Linked DNA regions of Homo sapiens. The protein of the gene in region 3 purifies or fractionates together with the protein of the main gene of each other region. This does not show direct contact. Each region holds a gene or a part of one and is shown on either strand. Other genes may lie near its edges.

Region 1 (7,427 bases), on a different chromosome or scaffold from region 3:
GCATGGGGGAAAGTGCTGTTCTAATAGGAAAAATGTTGTGTATTTATTACTTCACTGAATATAAATTTACTGTCAACATTAACCCAGAGGGTTGATAGCCTTTTATGCCATTTATGTGATGCAATTCCTATTTGACAATTATATCATTTTATACTGCTAGCTACTTGACTGTTCCTACCAGAAAAACCTATTTTTTTCCCCTTGACCAAAAACAATATATGCAGTAAATAATCTGGTTGTATGGAAAGATTAATCTTTATGTATGACATCATTTCCCCCTGTGGTTAGGGCACTTCGTTTTTATTCCACTGAAGGGAGTTTAGTCAGAGCTTATATTTTCACTTTCTGTGACTTTTTTCTCCTGTATTTAATTAATTATAGCAAAATTCCACTATAGGAAGAAAGCATAGTAGAATTTATTGACTAAGCTTGACCCAAAGAGTAGTCTAGTGTTATGGCCCCAGAAAAGCACAACTTCTTTTTCTTCAGAAGACTTTTATGTCAGAGTGGATTTTTGAATAGATAATGTTTGTATACATCACAAATTCAAGAGATACAAAACTGCATACCACACTGTCTTCTCCTGTTCCCTTATTCACCTGCTTTCCTTCTCAACTGGTATTACTATTTTCTTAAGTATCTTTCCAGAGTCTATGCATCTACAGATAAACTCATGTAAATATAGTTTTGTTATTTATTTACATAAATGCTATAATGTATCTTTTTTCATTAAAATTGCGTGAGAACTGTTTCTTACCTCTCTATATAAAGTGCTTTCTCATTTTTTTAATGGCCACATTGTATGAACATACCATGATGAGCTAACTTTTGTCCTGTTTGTGGTCAATACTAGTCTTTTGTGATTGATTTGAGCATATTTAAGTGGTTTTGACTGCAATACCGGTTACTAATTTAGGTAGTATAAATTAAATCTCAGTTAACACTCAAATTTAAGGAACTTGAAAGATAATCATTAAATTGAATGATGTGCCATATTGTCATTTTTTTTTAACAGGGAAAAACAATCTAGATTTACCTGTTTTATCCACACAACTTATTTCTTGAAGAAACAAGCGTTGTATGGTCATTTTAACAAATTTACTTTTTAGTCTGATGCTGTATTATGTACTTTGAAAATATCCAGTGCTGCCTTCTTTCACAAATTGAGACTTTTGATGCTTGTCCTATATAGCTGACATTAATTCCATCTGAGTATATTTTCTCAGATATTTTAGCTTTAAGAAGAATTTTTTTTTTTTTTTTTTTTTTTTTTTTGGAGACTAAGTCTCACTCTGTCGCCCAGGCTGGAGTGCAGTGGCGGGACCTCGGCTCACTGCAAGCTCCACCTCCCGGGTTCAAGTGATTCTCCTGCTTCAGCCTCCTAAGTAGCTGAGATTACAGGTGCCTGCCACCACGCCTGGCTAATTTTTGTATTTTTAGTAGAGATGGGCTTTGACCATCTCGGCCAGGCTGGTCTTGAACTCCTGATCTCGTGATCCACCTGCCTCGGCCTCCCAAAGTGCTGGGAATACAAACGTGAGCCACCGTGCCCAGCCTTAAGAAGAATCATTATTCCAGAATATACAATTTGAATCTCCATAATAGAATTAACTCTCATTTTTATTCAGTTAGAAAATCTTTGTCCCCCCCACTGCTAAATTTGACTGGCTTAAAAAAAAGAACTTGGGTTTATTCCTCATACCTGGGGGTATTTTGTATCTGTGAATATTTTATTTCGTGTTTGTATTGACAGCATGCTTTATTTATAACGGTCTCCGTTGGTTTAACTGTTACTCCCTCTGTTGGCTTTCAGAGGTGTTACATTTTTTTGTAATGGTGTCAGAAAAAATATTTATGCTGATTTTCACTTAGCCTCCAACATTAGTATTATAATTGATACAAATATGCTTGTGAAGTAGGCTACACACAAGATTGTTTTATTTATTTTTTATTTATTTTATTTATTTTTTTGAGATGGAGTCTTGCTCTGTCACCCAGGCTGGAACGCAGTGGCGTGATCTTGGCTCACTGCAACCTCCGCCTCCCAGGTTCAAGCAGTTCTTTTGCCTCAGCCTCCCGAGTAGCTGGGACTACAGGCGCTCGCCACCATGCCTGGCCAATTTTTGTATTTTTAGTAGAGACGGGGTTTCACCATGTTGGCCAGACTGGTCTCGAACTTCCAACCTCAGGTGATCCACTTGCCTCCACCTCCTAAAGTGCTGGGATAACAGGTGTGAGCCACCACTCCTGGCCTAGGATTGTTTTAAATTAACAGATGTTTCAGTGGCCATGAATGTTCTGGTTTCCATGAATGTGTTAAGGAAACTTAATCAGAATGCCTGTTTTATCAACAGCTGAGAACAGGGCTATGAAAAACAACAGGCATATAGAATATTTATGTTTGTATTAAGCAAAAAGTGGGCTTGGCATGTTAGATCTGTTTTAAAGGATTTTGCAAATATTTCCTAGTTTTTGTCTGCTATAGATTGAACTATCTAGGTAACTTGATGGAGTGAGATGATGGAGATGCCATATTGCACCTAGCATACCGTATAGAATAATGGTTATGTGTGTCTGTGACCTATGGACATGATAGTTGCTTTCTGTAATGTAACACATACAGGGCAAGGTATTTACTTGTTTTCCATATTTAGCATCCTCTTTAAAAACCACCAGATTTTCAATAGGTTCTTGGAAACTGCGACTTTAAATGGAACAAGATACTGCTGGTCTTTGAATGATGTCCTTTAGTTATAAGGTTAATGAGAAAAATTGGTTTTGTTAAATGTCATTTCACTTAAAGTCTCAGTTTCCAAGAACCTGTTGACAATGTTAAGTAAGGACTTAACTGTATATAGGTCATAAGCTTTTGAGGTTAAATATTATGTCCTGTACCTGTATGGTTAATTGGAGTTGTATCACTCACAGTGGTGGTAGAGTGTTAGGTTCTAAATTTAGCATACAAAGTGTACAATGGGTGTAGAGTATTTTCTCTTAAATCCCTTTATTCATTCATAGAATATACTAGGCTTTCTGGGTTCTGTATTTAGTGACCATTGTGGATAAAACATCTATTTAAACACTAGACTCAAATTCAGCATGATGAGGTATGTGGGAGCTAGGTAGGATTGAGGAAGCATCAAATTCTGGCTTTTCATCTTAATGCTTCACTAGAGCAACTCCTATTGAGGGGACTGCAGACAAGTTGGATGCATAGTATTTGGTTGCTCATTTGCCAAATGCATGTAGTTGGAGTGTGTTTGTGTTTTTGTTTTTTTAAACATAAATGTAGGGGCCAGGCACGGTGGCTTACTCCTGTAATCCCAGCAGTTTGGGAGGCCACAGTGGGTGGATCACTTGAGCTCAGGAGTTCGAGACCAGCCTGGGCAACATGGTGAAATCCTGTCTCTACAAAAAATACAAAAATTAGCCGGGTGTGGTGGTGTGCGCCTGTAGTCCCAGCCATTTGGAAGGCTGAGGCAAGAGAATTGCTTGAGCCAGGGCAACGGAGGTTGCAGTGAACTGAGATTGCACCATTGCACTCCAGCCTGGGTGGCAGAGTAAGACCCTGTCTCAAAAACAAACAAACAAACAAACAAAAACATTTGATGTTTCTCTATTGTAACTCCCCTCCTCCCACCTCCTTTCTTTTTGGATTTGAATGTAAAAGTAGTCATTCCAGGTAATGCATTTCTAGACTAGTTTTAAAGCATTCTTTTTCATTTATATCAAAGTCAATGAATGCATATTAATTATATCAGAGTTTTGAAGATTTCTTTGTAGAACACTTTAAATAAAATTGTAAACTTGAAAATGTTCATTACATGTTGGCCTTTCAAGTTAGAGGATTAATATTATGGCATTTTTAGTAGCTCAGTATGCTTAGATTTTGACCGTATTAAGTCCTTTGAATTTGACTGTTGATCAAACAAGCAGATAATAATATATATATATTTTAAAGGCCTGTGTAATAGTAAGTTTTGCCCCACCCACTTAGAAAGGTAGGCATGTTGTGTTGACTAAATAATCTGGCATTCTGTTTATTGACTTTGTGTGTTTTTGTACAGGTTGCTTTCCTGTTGCATCTTTGATATCATTTCCTAGACTCTACTCCATGATTTAACTTGAAATTCTGAAATGAAGATGGAGGAGGCAGTGGGAAAAGTTGAAGAACTCATTGAGTCCGAAGCCCCACCAAAAGCATCTGAACAAGAGACAGCCAAGGAGGAAGATGGATCTGTAGAACTGGAATCTCAAGTTCAGAAAGATGGTGTAGCGGATTCTACAGTTATTTCTTCAATGCCCTGCTTGTTGATGGAACTGAGAAGGGACTCTTCTGAGTCTCAGTTAGCATCCACAGAGAGTGACAAGCCTACAACTGGCCGAGTTTATGAGAGTGACTCCTCTAATCACTGCATGCTTTCCCCTTCCTCTAGTGGTCACCTGGCTGATTCAGATACGTTGTCTTCCGCAGAAGAGAATGAACCCTCTCAGGCAGAAACGGCGGTAGAAGGAGACCCTTCAGGAGTGTCTGGTGCCACAGTTGGGCGCAAGTCTAGGCGGTCCCGATCTGAAAGTGAAACTTCCACTATGGCTGCCAAGAAAAACCGGCAATCCAGTGATAAACAGAATGGCCGAGTCGCCAAGGTTAAAGGTCATCGGAGCCAAAAGCACAAGGAGAGGATCAGGCTACTGAGGCAGAAACGGGAGGCTGCTGCAAGGAAGAAATATAACCTGCTGCAGGACAGTAGTACCAGTGATAGTGACCTGACTTGTGACTCAAGCACGAGCTCATCAGATGATGATGAAGAGGTTTCAGGGAGCAGCAAGACAATCACTGCAGAGATACCAGGTAGAGGATGTTTTTTAAACTGACTGTAAAGTACCTGATGGCATTTCTCAGCTATCAGGTTCAGTTAGATGAGTGACACTTGAAAAAATCCAGGAGACCTGCAGCTCTGTGTAAATTTGAAGACTGCAGTCTATTAACAAGACATGGCCAATTTATAAAACCTGTTCTGAGGTTTCCAGTGAACTTTAGCACATCAGGAAAAACAAAATTAAAGGGTTAATGATAGGGACAAGATTATTTTTAAGTAATGGAATTTCTCATAAGTCTGTCTGTAACACATTACCTGAACTCCCAATCATTGCCTTTTTGGCACTGCTTAGATTTAATACTCACTGTTCGGCATCATTACTGAGTACATTCTCCTCAGGAATAGGCACCTTGCTTTATTATATAGCCACTGCACTTGAGCTTATAGTGTCTGAAATAACACATTCTATCTTTTGTTAAAGTTTTCTAATAATTTTTCCTCCAAAAACAGTAGTTTTATGTGTTTCCCCCATATTCAATGCATGAGAAGCTAGTTATCCTTGTTACAAATCTTTCTATCCTCACGTTGAAAAGAATGTCTTTCTGAAAAATTTCCCATTAGTTCCCCAAGTTTTAAAAAAGTTTGTTAGAAATCCGCTTGTTCTAGCTCTCATTGGTATAAGGGTCTGTAACTTATTACATATTTGGTAAATCTGCTTTCCCCATTCTTATTGCATCTGGTACTGTGTACTATAATACAAAGGCAGTCTTGAGATTTCATAGTGGAAGAAAGATGTATCTGAATGGTTCTTAAGTAGTGAATTCTTATTATCCAAGAGATCCTTACAATATGATCAGGAACATTTTGTAAACTGTATGGCATTGAATAGGTCATGGCAGTATTGTTTATTGCCACATTGAAGAGGGGCAAGTTTGGGTTTTCTAAAGTTTTATGGGTGACTATGTTTTTTCTCTCCCTGTTTTCTGAAAGCTTTCTGTTTCTACATGTGAAGACAGCATATTGCTGATATACAAAGAACATTTCAAGAGAAATCATATTGGTTAATGGAATCTATAGCTTCCCAAACTTATATAAATTCAGTAACAAGAATGATTGGTTTTAAAGCACTTTATAGGTGTTCAAGTTCTGATAATAAGTCTTGTCCATATAATATAAATATGAGTCTCAAACGATCTTTAGAAATGCTTTTTACTGTTTTAATATCTCTATTGGATTCCTTTGCTATTGTTCCTTGTAATAAAACTACCGGGAGGGGGATTTCAATGAAGCTCATCAGTTAAATGTATGAGAGAAACAGACTTTGGGGTTGTTCTAAGGCAGGTTTTAGGTATATATTTTAGTTTTACATGTATTAATATTTTTAAAAAAACCTTATTAATACCTGTAAAATTGTGCATTCCTATATCCTCTTCTAACCTCTTAATCAAGACCTTGATGGAACTCTTAATACAATACTTACTTCCACTTACTAAGCAGGATTTTATGTAACTACCCCAATACTTTGCCTTTTTGTGGAAAGGAAGAAGGTGGGTAAACAAAATTTAAAGTCAGAACCCTATTGTAAGGTGGCTTGAGAAATGTCTTCATAGGCACTTTCCCTGTTTTGCTTAAATAGGTTAGATGTGCTTTGTTCATATTTTCCTAATCTTCTTTCTAATTGAGTATCTTGACCACTGCTTAAAACTTAAAACACCAGTGTCTGTTTCTTGTCTCTTCTGAATTGTGTACTAACTGAACACCAAAGTAAATTAATTTGAATCTATAGTTTGGTTTCTATTGTTCACACCATTTAGTAACTTTGTGGCTTTTGAAAATACACATAGTTTTCTAAGGTAATCCTGGAGAATCAAATGGTAGATTGAGGTACAGGGTCACTGTATGTGACTGCCTGTGTGTGTGCTGGCAGTTTTGGGAGGTCTTATGGTATACCTGCCATTCCCATAAGACAGGTATGAATGATCTTTACTGGAATTATGCAAAGCAGCAAAAATGGAACAACTTAGAGTTCAAATATTAGGAATTTCATTTCAATTGTCCATATTGTTGTCTCTTGAAAAATTGTGACATTGTGAATTTTTAATGTAACAGTGATGTATCTTTCAGTTTACTGAGTCACCTTATGACTTTGGGGAAGAGAGGAGGCACGTTCAACCTTATAGTAAGAGCAGTTGTCGAAAAGTTGCCTAAATTGTAAAGGTAGGATAAATTATGAACTGACTTGAGTTCAACAACATGGACATTCAGGTGAACTTAAGCTGGATGGGCCTAACAGAATCTCTTGGATGTCGGAATGTTAATTCAGCTGTTTACACAGAATGGAAACCAAGTGGAAAAGTAAAAACCGATTATTGCCATACTCTTTCATTAAGGTACAACCAATTTAGTAATTCAGAAAATGCTCTTTATAAGCTTTTGTTTGGGCTCAGCTTAAAAGTTGAAGGCATTATCCTAAATAATTCCTGTTAGGATATCCTAATACCTTAATCCTAAATGTTATGCCAAATAATTGTAACTGTTAATGCATATTCTTTTAGAGAGTGCAAATAATTAATAATGCAGACCAGTGTAGTGCATGATCATACTTTA
Region 2 (7,427 bases), about 84 Mb from region 3:
TAATGTAAAAGAGATACAAAGGAAGATGTAACATGCAGAAAAGTAGTTGGAAACTCTTGGAAAAATAAAATGCTGTATAAGAAAGGAAGTTTATCAAATGTACTACTTATTTCTGCAGGGAACCACATTTACATATGTTATAAATACTATATTGTAAAAATGAAAGATAACTATATATAGAAAGGATGGTAGAGGGGAGATATGGGTGTTGATAAGTAAGAATCCCCATTGCTCATAGAGGATAAACTTTATAAATAAGTCAGCAGGCCAGGGACGTTGGCTCATGCCTATAATCCCAGTGCTTTGGGAGGCTGAGATGAGCAGATCACTTGGGGTCAAGAGTTCGAGATCAGCCTGTCTAAAATGATGAAACTTCATCTCTACTAAAAATACAAAAATTAGCTGGGCATGGTGGCATGTGCCTGTAGTCCCAGCTGCTTGGGAGGCCGAGGCAGGAGAATTGCTTGAATCCAGGAAGAGGAGGTTGCAGTGAACTGAGATCACACCACTGTACTCCAGCCTGGGTGACAGAGTGAGATTCCGTCACACACACAAAAAAATAAATAAAACAAATAGTATATTATGAATAGTAAGAGATGACTATAACTATCAGATGTTAACACTTTGGAGGTGGAAAAACAGATTTTTATCCTCTTTTTGGTTTTTCATTATGAGTCTAGATTTGTTTTTAATGATGTATATGTATTGTTTTGATAATTTAAAAAATGTGGCCATGCAGACACACATTGTAAAGGTGAAATGGTTTCACAATCTTAGTTATGTCAGTTATGTTTTACATTTAATGAATTTAGCTAAAGAACATGCATGGATTTCTCAGTAGAGAGCTATAGTTAAGGTTGTAAGTTCTGGAGTTAAATGACTTAGATTTAACTACCTTGGGGGGTAGATTAACCTCTAAACCCCAGTCCCTTTTTTTTTGCTTTGTTTTGTTGTGTTGCTTTTTGTTTGTTTGTTTTTCTTATTTATTTAAGACCCTAGTCTCTTGAACTATAAAGTGGGGCTGATAACATGTATCTCGTAGCATTGTTCTGAGGATTGAATGAGATGGTCTGTTCAAAGTGTATCAAAAGTAACCAGCATGTAGTAAGTTCTCAGGAAATGTTATCTTAAAATAACAATAAAATGATTTACCAGAATGAACACACTGAAGCAGTAAGTTCCATAATTAATTTTACATAAGTTATCAGTAACTAAAATTAATTATATCTATTCTTTAAAACATCATGGAAATCATTGATTACAAAATTATTGGATATTCATTATTACATTGAAAAATGAAGCTGGCCAGGTGTGGTGGCTCATGCCTTTAATCTCAGCACTTTGGAAGGCTGAGGTAGGCAGGTTGCTAGAGCTCAGGAGTTCAAGACCAGCCTTGGCAACATGACGAGACCCTGTCTCTACAAAAAATACAAAAATTCACTGGATGTGGCACACCTGTAGTCCCAGCTACTTGGGTGGCTGAGGTGGGAGGATCATTTGAGCCCAGGAGGTTGAGGCTGCAGTGAGCCATGATAGTGCCTGGGGAACAGAGTAAGACCCTGTCTCAGAAAAAAATAGAGAGAGAGAGAGAAATAAAGAAAGAGAAAGGAAAGAGAAAGGAAGGGAGGCAGGGAGGGAAAGAAAATAAAACAAAACAAAACAAAGGAAAGAAAAATGAGAGGCCAGGTGCAGTAGCTTGCTCCTGTGATCCCAGCTACTCAGGAATCTGAGGTGGGAGGATCTCTTGAGCCTAGGAGTTTGAGGCTGAAGTGCACTGTGATTGTGCCACTGCACTCCAGCTTGGATGAGAGAGTGAGACCGTCTCTGATGAAAAGAAAAATGAAGGCTATAGTTTCATAAGAGTATAAACTTGGGGCCAGGCGTGGTGGCTCACGCCTGTAATCCCAGCACTTTGGGAGGCCGAGGAGGGCGGGTCACGAGGTCAGGAGATCAAGACCATCCTGGCTAACACAGTGAAACCCCGTGTCTACTAAAAATACAAAAAATTAGCCGGGCGTGGTGGTGGGCGCCTGTAGTCCCAGCTGCTCAGGAGGCTGAGGCAGGAGAATGGCGTGAACCCAGGAGGCAGAGCTTGCTGTGAGCCGACATCACGCCACTTACACTTTTAGCTTGGATGACAAAGTGAGACTCAAAAAAAAAAAAAGAAGAATATTAACTTGGAGGTAGCACAATCTGGGATTATATCCTGACTCCACTATTTTCTCAGATATATTATGATAAAAATATTATACTTATATAAACTTGGAGAAGCTTTTTTCTTTTTTATTTCAGCTTTATTAAGGTACAGTTTACATAAAAGTGATGACTTTTATGTTTAAAATGTGATGGGTTTTGACAAAAGTATACAGTGTTACAACCATCACCGTGATCGTAATAGAACATTTCCATCATTGGAAGAGCCTCTTAGCCTCTTTGAAACCCAGTTTCTTTGCATGTTACATAGAGATAAAAGCCAGCAACCTCGGGTGGCTGTATACACAGGACCTAATATATACAGTCCCTGGCACATAGAAGACATTGCTAGTGTTCTTATCATACTCATCATTTTTTTTTCTGTTATTTTCTAGCTTCTGAAAGTTCTGCTGAAGACAGTGAGCAGGAAGATGAGAGAGGTGCTCAAGACATGGATAATAATGGCAAAGAGGAATCTAAGATTGATCATTTGACCAACAACAGAAATGATCTTATTTCAAAGGAGGAACAGAACAGTTCATCTTTGCTAGAAGAAAACAAAGTTCATGCAGATTTGGTAATATCCAAACCAGTGTCAAAATCTCCAGAAAGATTAAGGAAAGATATAGAAGTATTATCCGAAGATACTGATTATGAAGAAGATGAAGTCACAAAAAAGAGAAAGGATGTCAAGAAGGACACAACAGATAAATCTTCAAAACCACAAATAAAACGTGGTAAAAGAAGGTATTGCAATACAGAAGAGTGTCTAAAAACTGGATCACCTGGCAAAAAGGAAGAGAAGGCCAAGAACAAAGAATCACTTTGCATGGAAAACAGTAGCAACAGCTCTTCAGATGAAGATGAAGAAGAAACAAAAGCAAAGATGACACCAACTAAGAAATACAATGGTTTGGAGGAAAAAAGAAAATCTCTACGGACAACTGGTTTCTATTCAGGATTTTCAGAAGTGGCAGAAAAAAGGATTAAACTTTTAAATAACTCTGATGAAAGACTTCAAAACAGCAGGGCCAAAGATCGAAAAGATGTCTGGTCAAGTATTCAGGGACAGTGGCCTAAAAAAACGCTGAAAGAGCTTTTTTCAGACTCTGATACTGAGGCTGCAGCTTCCCCACCGCATCCTGCCCCAGAGGAGGGGGTGGCAGAGGAGTCACTGCAGACTGTGGCTGAAGAGGAGAGTTGTTCACCCAGTGTAGAACTAGAAAAACCACCTCCAGTCAATGTCGATAGTAAACCCATTGAAGAAAAAACAGTAGAGGTCAATGACAGAAAAGCAGAATTTCCAAGTAGTGGCAGTAATTCAGTGCTAAATACCCCTCCTACTACACCTGAATCGCCTTCATCAGTCACTGTAACAGAAGGCAGCCGGCAGCAGTCTTCTGTAACAGTATCAGAACCACTGGCTCCAAACCAAGAAGAGGTTCGAAGTATCAAGAGTGAAACTGATAGCACAATTGAGGTGGATAGTGTTGCTGGGGAGCTCCAAGACCTCCAGTCTGAAGGGAATAGCTCGCCAGCAGGTTTTGATGCCAGTGTGAGCTCAAGCAGTAGTAATCAGCCAGAACCAGAACATCCTGAAAAAGGTGAGAAGGAAAATGTGTATGTTGACTTATTTTAGGGTTTCCCCTCTTAAAGTTTCAATGATTTCACAGTATCTCTTGTTATAACCTGAGGCGATTAAGTGTCATATTTGTGTGAACATGGTAAAAATGGAAATTTTAAAGGTAATTTGAAAATGAATAGTGGAATGCATTTAAAAGCTTGAGAAGGCTTTAATGTGCTTTGCTTGAGCCATCCATGGCATTTTATTGTGGACCAGAACACATGCTAGAAATTGCACCCAGGCCCAAATCCAAACCTGTTTGAGAATTCATTATATGCAGTGGTTGACTATATGGCATGAGCAGCTTAAATCTATTTCTGTAACATTGTTTTTGCAATTGTAATGTGCAGTTTCTCACGAACATTTTGATTTATTGACAGACCCCTCCACCCTTAACCAAATACTGTATGTAGGGGTTTGGAGCAACCAACTGTCCAGGCACTGCTTTCCTCAGACAACCGTGTCAAACTGATTTTCAAGCCTGACTAACTTGTGTGAGTTTGTAAAGGAATTTGATGCTTTCTTAGATGCATAGCTTCCAAATTGAAGGACCAATGTGTACGTTAATAACCTACAGTAATACTTTTTTGATTTTCCGTGAAATTGTTAAAAGTGGAAATTCAAATCGGTACCTTCCCAAAGTATTAGTGCCTTTCGATGGTGCCATAGCCATACTTCTGTCATCATTTTTCTTATAAACCACTTCATTCAGGTATCTTTAAATCAGTATACTCTAGGCTGACACCTGGCTTTGGAACACACTTTTCCATCGTAAAGACAGAGCACTGGAGTATGTTTTTTATATACCGTAAAAGATTTTAGAATGCTAGCTTTAGGTTTTCAGCAAAGCTTAAAGAGATATGGTCTAGATCAAATTAGTTAATTCTATGTTTTCTCAGGAATCTTGACTTAAAACATTTCTGTTTTAAAATAAATTAAAAAAATACTTGCAATTAAATTGAAATGTTCTTTGCTTTTTTTCACATTTACAAGTATAACTACTATGATTTTATCTGTGCCATACTATCTCATGCAACTGAACTATCCAGGCATGACTAATCTTCAAAATGAAAGAATCCTTTATTTCAGAATATTAGGCTTTCAACAGTAAGATTTTACTGGCCAGGTGTGGTCACTCACACCTGTAATCCCAGCAATTTGGGAGGTCTGGGAGGTCAAGGCGGTGGATCGCTTGAGTCCAGGAGTTCAAGACCAGCCTGGACAACATGGCAAAACCCCATCTCTACCAAAAATACAAACGTCAGCCAGCTGTGGTGGCGCATGCCTGTAGTCCCAGCTACCTTGGGGGCTGATGAGGGAGAATCACTTGATCCCGGAAAGGCTGCAGTGAGCCAAGATCACGCCACTGCACTCCAGCCTGGGTGATAAAACAAGACCCTGTCTCAAAAAAAAAAAAAAAAAAAAAAGAAAAAACAAGAAAAGAAAGAAAAAAACAGGTTTTATTGTTATAGGTTTTCTTGGGGGTTTTTTTTTTGAGATGGAGTCTCGCTCTGTTGCCCAGGCTGGAGTGCAGTGGTGTGATCTGGGCTCACTGCAACCTCCGTCTCCTGGGTTCAAGTGATTCCCCTGCCTCAGCCTGCTGAGTAGCTGGGACTACAGGCGTGTGCCACCATGCCCAGCTAATTTTTTGTATTTTTAGTAGAGATGGCATTTCGCCATGTTAGCCAGGATGGTCTCTATCTCTTGACCTCATGATCTGCCTGCCTTGGCCTCCCAAAGTGCTAGGATTACAGGCATGAGCCACCGTGCCTAGCCTATTGTTGTAGTTTTTAAGAGGTTGTATCCTTATTATGTTCGTAATATCTTACAAAAGATTAAAATTAACAACAAAAAAAAAGAGGATATCTTCTCTGCTAATAGACTAAGTCAACACTGCCCTTTTGAATCTTAATCTTGACTAGGTTAATAATTGTGGAATTTGAAAGCTACTCCTAAATTTAGGGTAATTTATATCTCTTTAGAAATAATTGGTGTTTTTCTTTTTGTTGGGTTTTTTTTTTTTTTTTTTTTTTTTTTTTGAGACATAGAGTTTTGCTCTTGTTGCCCAGGCTGGAGTGCAGTGGTGCAATCTTGGTTCACTGCAACCTCCACCTCTCAGGTTCAAGAGATTCTCCTGCCTCAGCCTGCTGAGTATCTGGGATTAACGCCCGGCTAATTTTTGTATTTTGTTTAGTAGAGATGGGGTTTCGCCATGTTGGCCAGGCTGGTCTACGAACTCCTGACCTCAGGTAATCCACCTACCTTGGCCTCCCAAAGTGCTGGAATTACAGGCATGAGCCACCGCGCCCAGCCAGAAATAGGTTCTTAAGCACCTGTTTCACATGGCCACATTTTAATAAATTTACTTACTATGAATATTGGAGACTCCCCACTATATCACAAGTTAAAATTTAAGTTTTACTATTTAGATGTAGTTTTTTCCTCTTAATTTACTCTACATTGAAGGTTTTTATTTCTTAGTATCTGAACACTTTAGAATTAAACTCTCTTGGAGAGAAACCTGACAATTATGGTTCTGTGCTTCAGTATGGTCAATATCTACGTCTCCTTTATGTTTCACTTAAATTGTGATATTAAAATGACATTAGGTGGGTCACATACTTGGTGTAAAAAATAAAAAAGAAATATTAAAAATTTAAAAAGGTATTAGGAAAAGTTGTAAGTAAGATTATATGACCCATTAAAAAAAAGCTAGGAAGTTGCAGACAGTTAATTACTTGTCCTGTTTTTGATCAAGGAAGTTAGGTTTTATACACAGAAGGTTGATTTGGTGTCTGACATTGGAACTGAATGGAGATAGTACTTTATTAGTCTCTGGAGAAAAAATCTTACTTTATATAGTCTGAGAGATAACATATATGAATTAGACAGAAATATAGCAGATGTTAAGGACCAAATGAGTAGTATAGAAAAATGCTACAGTTCAGAGTAGTGATTGATCAGTGAAGCCTGGAACATCTTAGTGAAGATGTAGGACTTGGGCTAGTCCTTGAAGAAAAGGGAGACATTTATTTGTAATGTTTTGCAATAATTTCCCACCAAGAAGATGAGACGTTTTTTAGAACTACTATGTTGGATTTGTAAATGGTATGCATGTTAACCAAACAGTGCCCTGGGAGCTTAGTTATTCTTGACATAAATTGGTAAAAAAGAACCAAGTATGAATTACTGCTAAAATTTACCTCATTTATATCATTTAAAAATTATATTAATATGATTATAAGACATAATGTCATTAACATTTTAACCTGTGATTAAGTCTTAATATTTTGGTTTTATTGAATCTTAACAAATTTCAGTTTTTATTTTCAGCATATACTTTTAATTACTAGGCTTATAAACTCCCAGTACTATATTAAGGACTATTTTCAGTTTATATCTGATTTTTTTAAAGAAGGATGTGCATACTTTGTTTGCCTTTTTAAAAACCCTGACTTTTATTATGTATAAGAATTGAGCTTCCATTAATGACAGTTTATTTAAAAATTGTAGTAAGTTCTGTGACAACTTATAAATGTCATAAAGAACATGTAGTTTTGGATTGTTCTATGTTTCTAAAATGTGGAATTAATTTATACTTAGGGAATGT
Region 3 (2,980 bases):
CAGTACAAAGAACCAGCAGGAGCTTTGGAATTACGTATTTTTACTTTCTTTTGTCTCTAATGTGATCAGTTTCTTAGATGGTTTCCATTAGCAATCTGTCTTTAACAGTAGGGGAACAGCGTAAAGGTTTAATATTCCTTTGAACAGTTTTTTTCCTTCAAAATACACTTAAGATACACGTATATAAGAACTTGCCAAAGATTGTGAAGAGAAACATTTTTTAGAAATAAGATATAAACAAAAAAAGTTAGTGTTTACTTTCCTATGTTGGGGAACAAAGAAAACTCCAGGGTACCTTGCTTCCCATTTCTCTTTAGCACCTTGTGACTTTTGGGGAGGGGCAGATTGATAACAATTATAGTTTTCCTTTCCTGGCTGATCACCATTAACCTGGCAGCAGCACTGGCTAAATCTCCTGTCCTTAGTGCCCTCCAAGGAGCAGGAGCCCTAGACTCTGGGTCGCTGACAGACTCACGCAGTGGTGTTGTTCAAACCTGAAGCAACTTTTTATATCACAGTTCCAACTCAAGGTGAACCTGAGCATCTTCCCAAGTCTCCCACAGCTTCTGTCCTGTGTTGTCCCTTCTCTTGACTCCCAGGTCCAAGCACTTACCCTGTTCTTTCATGATCAGGTACCATGTGTGGAGATAGCTTCCAAGAGAGCTGGGAGGAAGAAAGGACACACCCGGGCAGGATCAGGAACACTGGGGGCCCCTGGAGAAGGGGAGAGTGGGGGAGGGTACAGGTTTTAAATAAAATGTGTTGGGTAATTAGAGAAGTTGCTGGTTGGGGAAAGAGGACTGAAAACAATTCAGGAAGATAAACAGACAATCTCTCCTCTCTCCTCTTTCTCACGTCGTCTCTCTTGTCTTCTAGTCTCGCTACTCATTTCCTTAGTAATCTCATCCACTCTCATAGTTTCATCCATCTCTCCTATGGGGTTTACTCCCAAATCAAGATCACCAGCTTCAGCCTCTTTCTTATGCTCTAAACTCACATTTTCAAGATTAATATTCCCCAAATACAGCTCTGATCATATCACTCTCCCACTCAAAATCCCTCACTGGCTCCTCACGATGATGGGTCACAGAGTAAAGGTGAAGCTTTTTAACCTTGCAGTAAAGGTAATTCAACCTGATCTCAATCTGCCTTTCCAGACATCTCTCCCACTACACCCTGTTAGGCACACTGCTTTTCAGCTACATGATCCTAACAGTGCCCCACACTTTCCTGCCTCTGTTGTTCATTTCACACCCTTCCACTGGCATCCCCTTCCCACAGGTCGAAATTCTACTTAGCCTTTTGGCTCAGCTCAAATGCCACCTCTTACATCAAGCCTCTAAGATTCTCTTGATCAGAAGGAATCTTTCCCTCCTTTGATACCTACAGTATTATGCCTTCTCCCTATTTCTTGACTTTAAACTCTTTAAAGTTAAAAAACATCATATTCATTTTTGTGTACCATCAGTACCTCGCACAATACTCAGTAAATATTTTAATGAATAAATAAACTGAGAGTACTAAGTATTTTTCTTGATTGGTCTTACAGCTGGGGAGAAAACTGGGGAAACAAAGGATATATCCTCATGGCTCGAAATAAGAACAACGCCTGTGGCATTGCCAACCTGGCCAGCTTCCCCAAGATGTGACTCCAGCCAGCCAAATCCATCCTGCTCTTCCATTTCTTCCACGATGGTGCAGTGTAACGATGCACTTTGGAAGGGAGTTGGTGTGCTATTTTTGAAGCAGATGTGGTGATACTGAGATTGTCTGTTCAGTTTCCCCATTTGTTTGTGCTTCAAATGATCCTTCCTACTTTGCTTCTCTCCACCCATGACCTTTTTCACTGTGGCCATCAGGACTTTCCCTGACAGCTGTGTACTCTTAGGCTAAGAGATGTGACTACAGCCTGCCCCTGACTGTGTTGTCCCAGGGCTGATGCTGTACAGGTACAGGCTGGAGATTTTCACATAGGTTAGATTCTCATTCACGGGACTAGTTAGCTTTAAGCACCCTAGAGGACTAGGGTAATCTGACTTCTCACTTCCTAAGTTCCCTTCTATATCCTCAAGGTAGAAATGTCTATGTTTTCTACTCCAATTCATAAATCTATTCATAAGTCTTTGGTACAAGTTTACATGATAAAAAGAAATGTGATTTGTCTTCCCTTCTTTGCACTTTTGAAATAAAGTATTTATCTCCTGTCTACAGTTTAATAAATAGCATCTAGTACACATTCATTTTGTGTTGGATACTGTGTTAGGTGCTGGAGGAAAAAAGATGAATAGAACATCTTCTATGTACTTGATGCGCTCACAGTCTGGTTGTAGAGACTGTCACATAAACATTTCATCCCAATTCATTTATTTGTTCATTCCTTCAGCCAATATATATTGAGTTCTTACTCTGTGCCAAGAACTGTACTACATTTCTGGGATTAAGTGGATATAAGGAGATCTCAGTGTTTAATCTGCCTGAGGGGAGACTAAATTAAGTGACATGGAAACTTGGGTCTTGAAAAACATTTTAAGGTTATTTTTTCTTTTCTCTCTCTCTCGCTCTGTCTTTCTCTCTCTTTCGTCAGGGTCTCCCTCTGTTGCCCAGGCTGGAGTCAGTGGCACTCATAGCTCACTGCAGCCTTGATCTCCTGGGCTCAAGAGTTCTTCCCACCTCAGTCTCCTAAGTAGCTTGGACTACGGTGAACACCACCATGCTTAGCTGATTTTTTAAAAATTATTTTGTGGGAGGCCGAGGTGAGAGGATCGCCTGAGCCCAGCAGTTTGAGACCAGCTTGTCTCCCTATGTTGGCCGCCTCGGCCTCCCAAAGTGCTGGAATTATAGGTGTGGGCCACTGCACCCAGCATGACACTGTTGTTAATATGGCAATAATCTCCAAATTGATCTACAGAATTAACACAATTTGTATTAAAATCTCAGCTGGCTTTCTTGCAGAAATTGGCAAGCTGGCTCTAAGATTCAT

The links.
Region 1: the proteins of CTSK (region 3) and ARK2N purify together in Homo sapiens (affinity purification with mass spectrometry; 3 studies listed by BioGRID and IntAct, with this or other methods). This does not show direct contact.
Region 2: the proteins of CTSK (region 3) and ARID4B purify together in Homo sapiens (affinity purification with mass spectrometry; 3 studies listed by BioGRID and IntAct, with this or other methods). This does not show direct contact.

What each region holds. Positions count from the first base shown.
Region 1 is NC_000018.10:46,211,744-46,219,170, forward strand, and holds part of ARK2N (protein ARK2N), read left to right. Parts: intron 1-4,067; 5' UTR 4,068-4,137; coding exon 4,138-4,852; intron 4,853-7,427. UniProt on the Homo sapiens protein: AMPK substrate important for exercise capacity and skeletal muscle function.
Region 2 is NC_000001.11:235,177,955-235,185,381, reverse strand, and holds part of ARID4B (AT-rich interactive domain-containing protein 4B), read left to right. Parts: intron 1-2,588; coding exon 2,589-3,797; intron 3,798-4,197; coding exon of another isoform or gene 4,198-4,289; exon of another isoform or gene 4,290-4,311; intron 4,312-7,427. UniProt on the Homo sapiens protein: Acts as a transcriptional repressor. May function in the assembly and/or enzymatic activity of the Sin3A corepressor complex or in mediating interactions between the complex and other regulatory complexes.
Region 3 is NC_000001.11:150,795,468-150,798,447, reverse strand, and holds the end of CTSK (cathepsin K preproprotein), read left to right. Parts: intron 1-1,549; coding exon 1,550-1,649; 3' UTR 1,650-2,240; downstream 2,241-2,980. UniProt on the Homo sapiens protein: Thiol protease involved in osteoclastic bone resorption and may participate partially in the disorder of bone remodeling. Displays potent endoprotease activity against fibrinogen at acid pH. May play an important role in extracellular matrix degradation.